Linked DNA regions of Homo sapiens. The protein of the gene in region 2 interacts with the protein of the main gene of each other region in a biochemical or structural test. Each region holds a gene or a part of one and is shown on either strand. Other genes may lie near its edges.

Evidence for each region.
Region 1: the proteins of DZIP3 (region 2) and TOLLIP form a complex in vitro, tested with the Homo sapiens proteins (one study listed by BioGRID).
Region 3: the proteins of DZIP3 (region 2) and RUNX1 form a complex in vitro, tested with the Homo sapiens proteins (one study listed by BioGRID).

The regions. Positions count from the first base shown.
Region 1 is NC_000011.10:1,276,252-1,278,632, forward strand, and holds part of TOLLIP (toll-interacting protein), read right to left. Parts: intron 1,003-2,381; coding exon 788-1,002; 3' UTR 1-787. UniProt on the Homo sapiens protein: Component of the signaling pathway of IL-1 and Toll-like receptors. Inhibits cell activation by microbial products. Recruits IRAK1 to the IL-1 receptor complex. Inhibits IRAK1 phosphorylation and kinase activity.
Region 2 is NC_000003.12:108,644,322-108,650,132, forward strand, and holds part of DZIP3 (E3 ubiquitin-protein ligase DZIP3), read left to right. Parts: coding exon 1-460; intron 461-2,295; coding exon 2,296-2,328; intron 2,329-3,621; coding exon 3,622-3,791; coding exon of another isoform or gene 3,792-3,797; exon of another isoform or gene 3,798-4,596; coding exon 4,597-4,641; intron 4,642-5,811. UniProt on the Homo sapiens protein: E3 Ubiquitin ligase proteins mediate ubiquitination and subsequent proteasomal degradation of target proteins.
Region 3 is NC_000021.9:34,829,303-34,832,802, forward strand, and holds part of RUNX1 (runt-related transcription factor 1), read right to left. Parts: intron 1-3,500.

The sequences.
Region 1 (2,381 bases), on a different chromosome or scaffold from region 2:
CCCTGGGAGGACACCCACGGAGCTGGCACGAGCGCAGCAGGAGAGACGGACGGCAGCCTCCGGCGGGCGAAGGACCCGGCTTCAGATGCCCGCTGGCTGGCAATCAGGCAGAGCCTGGCCAACCGTGCCAGGCCCCCTTCCTCACTCCAGGTGTGGGTTCATTCTGCCTTCAGGCCGGAGTCTGTCACAAGGCTGGCTGGACAGTGGCCAGGTGAGCCAGGCCAGAGGCCGGCCCCACACCATCCACAGGAAGCTGCTCAGCTCACCAGACCCAAGCCCTGGGCAGGGGCCAGGCTCACAGCAAAGCGCGTTAGGGCAAGGGCGTGAGTTTTCGTCTGGGAAGTTCTAAAAAAAACCCACAGTGTGAGGGATTGTGTGTGCCTTAAATCAACAGCTCTATTCCAATTACATCACATCACAAAATGCCATGAATGGAATCGGAAGGCGCTCCACCACCTCCAACACCCTGGCAGAAGCAGCTGCTCTCTACAGCAAGAGCATTTTCCAGAACGGCATGAGAAGGAGAGACGCACGTCCCAGGGACAGGAGAGCGCGCTGAGACCTCCCAGCACGAGATGGGAGGGGAGCCCCCGCCCCGTCCTGGACCGCCAGGAACCGAAAACCCACATGCACCCAAGAACAGGTGTGGACGGGGCGGCACAGAAGTCCACGGGAGGGGGCGACACGGGTGCTCTTTCACGGGAATCTTGTTGGGACAGCATTCCTTGGGGAGCGCCGGGTCGGCGTGTCCAAAGAGCGGGGGCAAAACGGCATCGAGGCAGAGGCTCTATGGCTCCTCCCCCATCTGCAGCAGGGAGTTGATGGCGGCATCCTTGTTCCCTCGCTGGGCTTCCAGCACGGAGCGGATCACCTCCTGGTCCATGTTGGGGAACATGTCCTGGATGGCTTTCAGGTCCTCCTCGCTACAGCGGGGCTGGGCGTTCACGGCGGCCGGGGGCAGGGCCACGGGCACCATGCCGGGGCTACAGACAGCGGGCATCCCTGGAAGCAAAGATCAAGTTTGGTAAAAACGTCGGAAAGTTCCAGAAGTGCCACACTAGCTCCTGCTGAAGGAAGAAAACAACGCATCCCACCGGCCTCCCTGAGGAAGGGGCCACCTCGGGTCTCAGCAAACACCAGTCCCGCAAGACACCCTGGAAAGGCAAACCCCCAAACAGCAACCCCAGGCACAGCCACGGGGAAGGTGGGCAGGGCCCTCTGTGACGCCTCCTTCACTAACTCATCTTCCTTCCATATAAAAATCAAAGTTTGATCTTTCAAATCTCACCCGAGTCTGTTTTATAACTAGCAGGCTGGGGGTGGTGTTTTGATCCCTTCAGAACTCGTGAATTTGCACTGCACACGCTCGTCTTCACTGACCAGTGGGCTCACAGAGTCCTCTGCATCTGGGGACGGACTACACGGAATGTCACGCCCGCTGATCCAAACACTGCACGGTCTGAGCCTCTTCCTTTATCAGGCATTCTAGAAGATGCTTTTGCAGCTTGGCAAGTGTGTCACTAAACTGTGTGCCGGTGGGGAACAATCACCACAGGCACTGAAGACCTCAGCAAAGCTGCAGCCGATGCCCAGAATGACAACCCCACACACACATACAAACTACACCAAGAAAATGCTCACAAAACTCAAACAAGTGGGGCAGCAGGTGCGGTGTACAGTGGACCCTCAGTGCACTGGGGCCACCGTCCAGGGTTCCTGGCATCTCCACCCCACAGCTACGCAGGCCCCTCGCCCCATGTCTGATGCGGGAGGACACACTGAGATGCAATCTATCGAGCAGGAGACGCACGGCGGTTCAGCCACTGCAGCACACACACCCCTGAAGGCACCGTGTGGCCGGACTTAAGACTCGCCTCCCAGCCTGGTGGCCGCTCCCTAAAACCACGAGCAGCCCTGAGCACAGGCAGCGTGCGCGGGGCTCAGCGACCAGTGAGGCACAGAGCACAGGCAGCGTGCGCGGGGCTCGGCGACCAGCGAGGCACAGAGCTCCTCCTGCAGCAGCAGCTGCAGCAGTGCAAGGGTTCACTGCTCACCCGTTCATTCACCTTTAAAAGCACGAACCATCTCCCAGCTAGGATCACTGGAGCGCTAGAGCCCCAATCTTAGGATAGGACTTTTGTTCCTTTCTACACTTGGAGGATCCTAAAGGCAGCAGAAGCCACTTCAATCCTGGCCTGAACCAACACCAGCAACAAGACCTGCAGGGGTGTAAACGGAGCAGACAGGGCTTGCCACCAAGCCTCCTGCACCTGCTGCAAAGGCCAGGACTCCTCAGCAAGGAAGGCCACCGCTTCCCGGCTCCTTCTAGGCCAGGCCGACTCTTCCTCCACACCCACCCCTGCCTCCTCTGCTTCTCGGCT
Region 2 (5,811 bases):
TCCTACTACAACCATCTTTGGACCAATCATCCTTTGGGTGGATCATGGCATCTGCTTTATCCTCCTAACAAGGAGTTACCGCAATCCAAACAGTTTGACTTATGCCTCCTGTTAGCTCTTATAAAACATTTAAATGTGTTCCCTGCACCCAAAAAAGGATGGAATATGGAACCGCCATCTTCTGACATCTCTAAATCTGCAGACATCCTGAGACTGTGCAAATACAGGGATATCCTCCTTAGTGAGATTTTGATGAATGGTCTCACTGAGTCACAGTTCAATTCAATTTGGAAAAAAGTTTCAGATATTCTTCTGCGCCTTGGGATGATGCAAGAGGATATTGACAAAGTGAAGGAGAATCCCATTGAGAATATCTCCCTTGATTACCATCAGCTATCTGTCTACCTAGGCATACCAGTACCAGAAATCATACAGAGGATGTTATCCTGCTATCAACAAGGTACTAAATGATTATTTACTTCAGCCAATAAACTTCCATTGATTGAATGTCTGCTCTGTGCCAGGCACAGTGCAAAGGGCAAGAGATTCAGTGAGCTCATGGTTTTGGGAAAATGGACTCATCAGGAAGGTAATAGAAATTATAGTGCTAGAGATGTTTCCAGAATACCATGGGAAATCCTAGGCTAAAGAAGTCCAAAAAAGCTTTCTGGAGAGTATCATAGTTAAAGAACTATTAATGGTGTGCAGAAGTTAGCCAGGTGAAGCAGACTGAGAAGAATGTTTCAGAGGGAAACAAAAATAAAGGTATAGAAACATAAAAATATACTGCAGGCAACTAAAAAATGTTGGCTTCATTGAGATTAAAGTAGGGGAGAGTTCATAGAGTACATTCAAGAGGATTTTTTTGTCACATTAAGGAGTCTGCATTTTTCAGAAAGAAATTGTTGAAGACTTTTGAGTACAGTTTTATCACTTTAAGTGGAGTTTTATTCTCCAAAATTAATAAAGTTTAAAACCATGACATGTAAGTACTGTGTGGTTTCAAAGATGTTCGTTTAGACACAGTGTGGATGTATGTTTCTTCTACTTTCTAGCAGAATCTTGTTTAGTTTACAATTTTAGCAGCTATTCATTGGCTGTAGATAATTTTAAAAATCAGGTAACATTCATGCAAGTGTTTGTATTGGCCACTCCCAAACTTGTCTATTGATACGGAAAAGACTTCAGACCTCCTTTCCCACATCTCAGGATACCTTCTCAGCTATTCTTTTGGAAAGCAGAGTTCAAGGCATGACAACATCTCTGAAACCCTGCTGTGCTATTCAGGATGACTTCCTGGTCTCAAGTTATTTACAGCCTAATGAACAACTGATAACCACACTGATGCTATATAAACATACAACTGTAAAAGTTTCTAGTGAACTGGTCCAGATTTTCTTCAGAGATAATTGATGTGCCCAATTTCAGTCCTGGTATTTACTAAGGCTCTGGAATACCTTTGTTTTCTTGCATAATCTAAGAATGAAAGAGGAGGACACTGAGTTTGATATATAAGAAAGTCAGGCAAGAATTTTTGACTTATAAATTAGGGTTTTAAAAAATACATTTACTCTATTAGGATTTTAAATAATTCATGAGAATAGAGTATTTGAGAAAGAGTTTTGAGCACCCATTCAATTCAAAGCATTTTAAGCAGTTCTTACTCAAGTACACTGAAGAGCTTATTGGTCAAGTCCCTTTACTAGAGGCTTTCTTACCATCTTATATTTCTTTCCTCAGCTATTCTAGTTGCTTTTTATTTGGATATCTGATAATTTGATTAACATCCATCATCCCACTAAATCTCCATGAAGATTGTCTTTTTTTTTCTTCACCATTCAATCTCTAGAGCTTAACACAGCCTGATGTACATTGTAGGTGCTCAATAAATATTAATGGGCAAGGAGAGCAAGTGATGATCAGATAAATCAGATTGCTAAAAATAGGTCCCAACTTTCAGTGGAGGTTTGCTGTGTAATTAACTATTATTTCATGGCCTTAGATGGTAAACATAAATATTCGTTGCTTGGTTTAAAGTGCTTGTGTTCTAGGCTTTATCTGTGATACCACATTTTTGTTTACTTTTTTTTCTCTAATCATGGGTTTATAACCTTTATGTGATAATCTAAAGATTGTGCCTTGTCTAAACTGGATTGATGAGCAAAGCTGGTTATTTTTCCAGTTACTTACAGAATAAATTGGTGCAATATAAAAATATTCTGCCTTAATCCTAGCCAGACATTCATTTGTTGCGTTTGCAATTGTACATCTAAAATTTTTCTTTATGTATTATAGGAATTGCTCTACAGTCAATAACAGGCAGTCAGCGTAAGTATATTTAGAAATAAAATGTGTAAATGACTTTTTAACAAGGGATACCTATGAAATTTTTATTTGTTCAGATAAACTAAATGATAAACTATAATTGTGAAGAACTTGGGCCAGGCGCAGTGGCTCACGCCTATAATCCCTGTACTTTGGGAGGCTGAGGCAGGTGGATCACAAGGTCAGGAGATCGAGACCATCTTGGCCAACATGGTGAAACCCCGTCTCTACTAAAAATACAAAAATTAGCCAGGTGTGGTGGCGGGTGCCTGTAGTCCCAGCTACTCAAGAGGCTGAGGCAGGAAAATTGCTTGAACATGGAAGGCAGAGGTTGCAGTGAGCCAAGATCACGCCACTGCATTCCAGCCTGGGCGACAGAGCGAGATTCAGTCTCAAAAAAAAAGAACTTGGAAAATGATGTGATCAAATCACCACTGGTCTGGCTGAATCGAGAATGAGCTTTATTCTGCCTTTGGCTTAGTGCATGTGCTTCAGGGTTTTCCCAAGGATGATGTTCTAACGTTTTACTCACAAAAACTTCAGCAGGCAAAAATACCTTCCTGCTTTCTCTGTTTGGTGTTTAGCGTGTATAACTTTATTTAGTCTGTCTATTGTTTATAGCTATATACTTTTTTTGCCAGGTGATAAGTTGTAATTGTTTAATTTCCATTTTTGTGCTATTTTTTTTAAGTGTAATTAATATTATTCAATTAAAATTATACTTAAAAAAAACACCACCACAGATTTGTTTGGGATAAAATGCTGGACTCTCTGGAGACCAGTCAGACAAAGTCCACAAGTTTTGAGACTGAGTCTCTGGGGCAATATCAAGGAGCAAAGTCTCAAAGAAAAGGTCACATAATAGGGGGCTCACACCCCTCTTATGAAAAAGAAAACAGAAAAAATAGATCTTTTGTCTTCTTTTTCTTTATATTTCAGATATATGTGCTAAAATAATACTAGTTGCATTATTAATAGGATCAAGGTCAGGACATGCAAAAAGTTAGTATTTAGAGTCTACTTATGTTCTAGAGTATCTAATATCTAGAGTCTACCTAAGATTCCAGTAGGTAACATAGCACTCAGGTTCACACTGATTAGTTCCAGGCTGGTGTTTGTACATATTATTTGGTAACTGATAAATGAACATCACATTTTCATCGAGTAATTGAAAAGAGTAAGATATATTTTATTTCTGTTTTGTGAATGTTGCTTTTTTGGGCAAACATTATAACATTGATAAGAAGCTGAAATTGCTTTCATCTAGATTTTGAGAATTTTGTCTTTTATGTTTAGGTATTGAAATAGAAGAGTTACAGAATGAGGAAGAAGAACTAAGTCCACCTCTCATGGAGTACAATATAAATGTGAAATCACACCCTGAGATACAGTTTGCAGAAATTAATAAAGATGGGACCTCAATACCCAGTGAATCTTCAACAGAATCTCTTAAAGATCTCCAGGAAGTATAAGCTCTCATTAATATTTGAGTTAGAAGAACTTATTCTGGGCCTTTAATTTGTTGCATGTGCTGTACTTAAAGCATCCCAGATAATTTTAGCTTATATTTTCATAGTGTTTATACAGAGCTTGAATTGGAATGGTCCTTTCCTTCCTTGCCTCAGTACTTCCTTCCATAATCTTTCCTGCCATAACCATTTATTTTGCCACCATTTCTTAAACACTTATGTGGCAGGCATTATGCTAGACTGTAATATGTTTTTTTAATCCCAGTTGAAGTGGATGTGGGAAGGTATTAGAAAGTAGAAGAAAGTATAGTCTAAAATAGAGAGGAAAGAAAGGAAGAGAAAAGTGGGATATTTCAAAACCATTTGCGCAGAGGTAGAATGAAATTCGTCCAGAATGGAATCTCCGTATTTCTTTACAAATAAGTGGTAACAGTTATTATATAGTCACTAAATTATCCTTAGATCTTTCATCTTATAGGCATGAATATGTTGCTTTTTAAAAAGTGTCTTCCTCCTTTGTTACATCCATGTGTGTAAGTGAGCATCTGTGAACTTTTATCAGTAACCTACTTATTGACATTATGTGTTGTTCCTTTATTCATCAGTGATTATTTAAGGACAGAAGACTAGGATTAAAATAAAAATGATAAAAACAAAAATAATTGTTTCCATAGAATCTAGAAAGAAATACCTATAATATTAGAAAACAAAAGATCTCAGTGGTGAGAGGAAATATATTTTGCAAAATAACCCATTGGGCAATTTGAATTACATATTTAATAAATAATTTTTTACCTACTAGGTTAAGAGTAAACAAAGGAAAAAGAAGAAGACTAAGAATAAAAAGGTAAGAGACTATAATAGCATTATAATACTGATTATGAACACTTGAGTTAAATACATGAATTCATTGTTAGAACTTAAATTAGTTCAAGTAGACATATAGCACAAATGATTCAATAGCTTACTGAGTATATGATTATAGAGAAGTCTACATATGTTATATCCTGAATGATTTTGAAGTACGAAATACAATTTCATACTTCACGTCCTTAAATTGTAATTTATATATTTGCATATATAAATATAGACTGAATTAGTCACATGGAAATTTCATTAATTTCTACATACCACTTATTTTTAAAATGCGTACTCATTGTTTTAAGAACAGCTTTTTGTCATGTCTTTATTGATATGTTTAGAAGCAGCTTTCAAAACTTTAAGAAATCTTGATTTTTTTCTTTATGTCTGAGACTATGCCAAAGATGCAATAATGTGCACAAAAAGGTACAAATACAAACTTCTTGCGTTGCTGCTTCTTTGATTTTGTCAGTTGCAAAATGAACAAGTCAGTATCTAGCACAGTTTTACCAGTGAGTCTCTTAATTGCTAGGAAAACTATAAGGGAAAGCCACATGTCTTTTTTTAATCAAGCATATAGCTAACCACCATGTTATGCAACTTTGTGGTGAAAAAAATTGTTTTCTAGCCTGAAAAATATATTTAAAATCTTGATATATTCTGTATATTATAAATTGAGTGAGAATATTTGCCCAACCACAATCTGGTGAGCCCATGTTGTTAGTCATTTGAAAGTGTAAACAAATTGTAATCATTAATGAAACTTAAGACAATGAAGATAAATTTGTAAAACACGAAGTCAAGATTTAAAAAAGAATTCATATCGAATCTGATAAGTAAAATATCACTATCATTGTTATATTTAACAATCATTTGTTATAACATTTTACTTAAAAGTTATGAAAGTTAAATTTTATTTTTTAAAGACATGAGTATGGAGATTTTTCCTGACTTTTAGACAGTTCTTATCTGATAAAACAAACTAATTTGTTATTTTGATGATATTTTTAATTTTTGCCAAAGTATTGGTAAGTCATGGGTCTAATACTACATAAAACTGGCCAAGTAAATTCACAGCTGTCAAACCACCAAACTAAGTTGCAAAGGCATATAGTGTGTCTTGCCTTTACTGCCATAAAATTAAAATATGGTAATG
Region 3 (3,500 bases), on a different chromosome or scaffold from region 2:
TGGGTGTGCTGGCCTACATATTTACAAGCATAAGGGGAAAGTTCAGAACATATGCAGTCTACAGAAGAAATATTTCATCACTAAGATCAAGCCCTGCAGTGAATCTCTGCAGTCATCCCACTGGTTTTCATTTCTTCTCTCTCTCTCCCTTCTTTCCTTTAATTATTTTTATTTATTCCTGTGAACACCTGATTCAGGCTTGTTGTCGGGGTAAGATTATAATGCTATAGACCTGGAAAGGCTCTCATACCCTACTACACCTTGTTAAAAGCTATTTTTAAATGAAATCATTCACCTGTCATGTTTATAGCCTATTATATAAATTAATTTCTCACATTCTGAATATGTTACTTTGTGTAACCATTAAATGACCATTTATAGATTCACATATGAGGATTTCTGGTGTTTGATTGTAGCCTCCACTTTCAAGGTAATCAAATAGTCCCTACTCCCTTTGTTTTCAAACTTCAAATTGCTAGAAGAGTAAGGAAGAGAGGGAAGGAGAGGGAGAGAGAAAGGAAAGCAATGCAATGCAGTTGGATATTTTACCTCCAAGGCTGGAAAGAGGATTTATCTCCTTCTCCTACAGGAAGGTGGAAAGGTTTTCTTCCTTTTGTCTATCCAGATGATAAAGAGAGAATCAGACGGACTTAAATAACTCTATACAACTGAGAAACAGGGTCATTTCAGTATCTCAGAGTTTTGCAGACAGCAGCACCAGAATATAGTCCTTCCTAAGTAACTTTAATTTTGGGGGAAAATAATTAGCAAGACAGAAGTTACTTGGAATACTAAAAATCAAGAGATGATTTGAGAGGTCAGGGACCCCTCTTGGCCATATGGAACACTCAAAGTGAGGCACGCATACTCATAAAAGTGGATTAGATGTTGACTGGGTTTGGATGATAAGCACTTGGTCCCAATGAACTTCAAAAGTAGGAAGGCAATGGCCCCAATAAAGTAAACAGAGTGGCTGGTAAGCCTTCTCCCTGCTCATATACCCCCTCTTTCACTCTTATTTAGAGATTCATTATTCTGAGTTTTCTTTTCTCCCAAACTTTATAAACAAATGCACATGTACCAAAGGAGACAGTTTATTAAGGTGCCCACCACACAGCCTGGCCCCAAAATTCTTCTTATTATCAACATCTAATTATAATAGAACATGTTCAATACAAGAATGCCAAGTGAGTGGATAGCCCAACACTTTTTCCATCCCTCCTTTGGTGATTGGGATTCTTCTCGACACTGGTCAGCCCTGTAGTAAATCGATCCTTGACCCAAGAGTGCACGCCCAGGGAACGGCCATCCCACTTGCACTGGCTTTGTAGCAAGGAAGGTCTGGGTTTGCGTCCAAGTTCATCACTTACAATCTTTGAGATACTGGGCAATTTTTAACCTCTGAATTTCGATTTCTCTGTCTATAAATGATACCACAGGATTGTTGAGGGAATGGAATAATATGTACAAATGTCTGACCCACGTCAAAATAGCTCACAACTGGTCCAGTTAAAGAGTTAAATCTTCTTCCTACATGCTTATGACAACCAGCATGCAGAAGAACAACAAAATGGGCTTCCTAGTTTATCTAGGTTTCAGTTTTCTGTACCAGCATCTATTACTCCATCCTCATATTCCCAGAAAGGAGGAAATTACGACACCTTAAATGTGATACATCATATTTGGTCAATCAGGGGTGAAATTTTAAAATCACTCACTCGGGTTGCCCAAACCCATCTCTAGGTGGGAGTTGTGACTGAACAGGCATCGGTACCACTAGCTCTAGAATCTGCCCTGTTCTATCTTTTGAAATAAATTAAAAAAGAATTCTAAGACTCGATCGTAGAAGTTAATGATGGTGTCCTGACTGGGAGAAACGTGTAGCCCAAGGGTCTACTCATGACAAAATGGCTTTCTATTCTATTTCATGACAAAATGGCTTTACCAGTTTAAGACCTGGTAAAATAGGAAGTTGAAATAAACCTCAGCCCTTTAATAGTTAAGACCCCAACAAATAAACAGTGGTTTAGTGGCATGACAACTTGCCCCCTCTCAATCTGTACCGTGCTTCAGATAATTTGAGATGTCTATTTTGAGTGACCCTCCAGCACATGTGATTCTAGGTAAGTATTGGTGCTATTCTATATCAGTATTTTCTTGCTGACAGAGTCAGAGGAGCTGGCATAACCCTTCTGACAAAGTCCTAGCAAGGTAGGGTTCCTGAGCCTTTCTATAAATCCCGGCAAGCTCGCCAAACCCCCGGTTACTGACATTTCTGTAAAGCTGAAAAACATTCATGCATCTGGACAGCACCACTGTGGAACTACTCTGACAAATTGGATATTTTTCTGAAAACTACCACTGCCATTTCAAAGAAAGCCAGAAACACATGCTGTATTTCTTAAAGTATCTTCGTAAATATAACATAGAAATTTCAGGGCTGAGCCTGGAAAATAAGCATTTTCCTACTGTCAAGAACAAACTGAAGGTCTTGGCTGAACAAGACTTGCATATTATACCTGTTAACTTTCCAATTTCAAGAGAAAAAGCCCAAGGGTCTACTCAAAACATGATTAGCGTAAAACAGCGTTTTCTTATAGGAAAGAAAGAACAAAAGGAAAAGGAAAAGTTGTTTCACATGAAAATATTCTGGATACTTATTTTTTAAAAGTTGTTCCTAAAATTTTACAAGTGAAGTACTGAATATCAAATTCATATTTTGGAAAGAAAGAACACCAGCAATATAGTTCACACATTCTTTAGAGTAGCAACCAAGCCCGTAGGAACTCTAAAAGCGAGTTATGATTTCTTAAATGTTGCAGAAGTAAAAGTTTTCAAGAGGAACAAAAAAGGGGCGATGCTTAGTGTTAAACCTGATACTCTACTAAGCATATAGGTCTCCAAAGAGCTGACGAATGCCCATCACACGGTCCACAATAATGCTTTTGCCCAGGAGCTTCAGAGGATGAGAACTCAATGTGCAACTTCCCCCCATTTTTTTGTTTTTGTTGTTAAAGAGGCATATCTGATGAAGAAGGAAATCAGATTAGATTCACTCTTCACCAAGAAACAGAGCAACTCAATGGTGACAATATCAATTTTCCCCCATGTGGCTGAATTTTCCATTGCCTTTAAAAATGCTTAAGACTTTTTGTTCCCATATCAGCAGAAAAAGGCAAATCCCTTAATCAACCTAGTAGTATAAATGGCCAGTTAGGCAACGAGAGACTAAGAAAACAGTCTTCCTTTTGATTTTACACATGAATAGATGATGTGAATTAGTTTTCTGAAGATTATGTGAATTAGTTTAAATGACCTTAAAGGCAAGATGAAAGAATCTCCTTGAGAGTTGTATCCTCTTTGGAAGCAAAGTATTGTTTTGCCCCAAGCCCATCTCGCTCACTGAACATACCATTTGACTTAATTTACCATATACGCTTGTATTTTGGAATTTAAAAAAAATCAATGTACACATTTTAAATCATTATTAATGATTATTA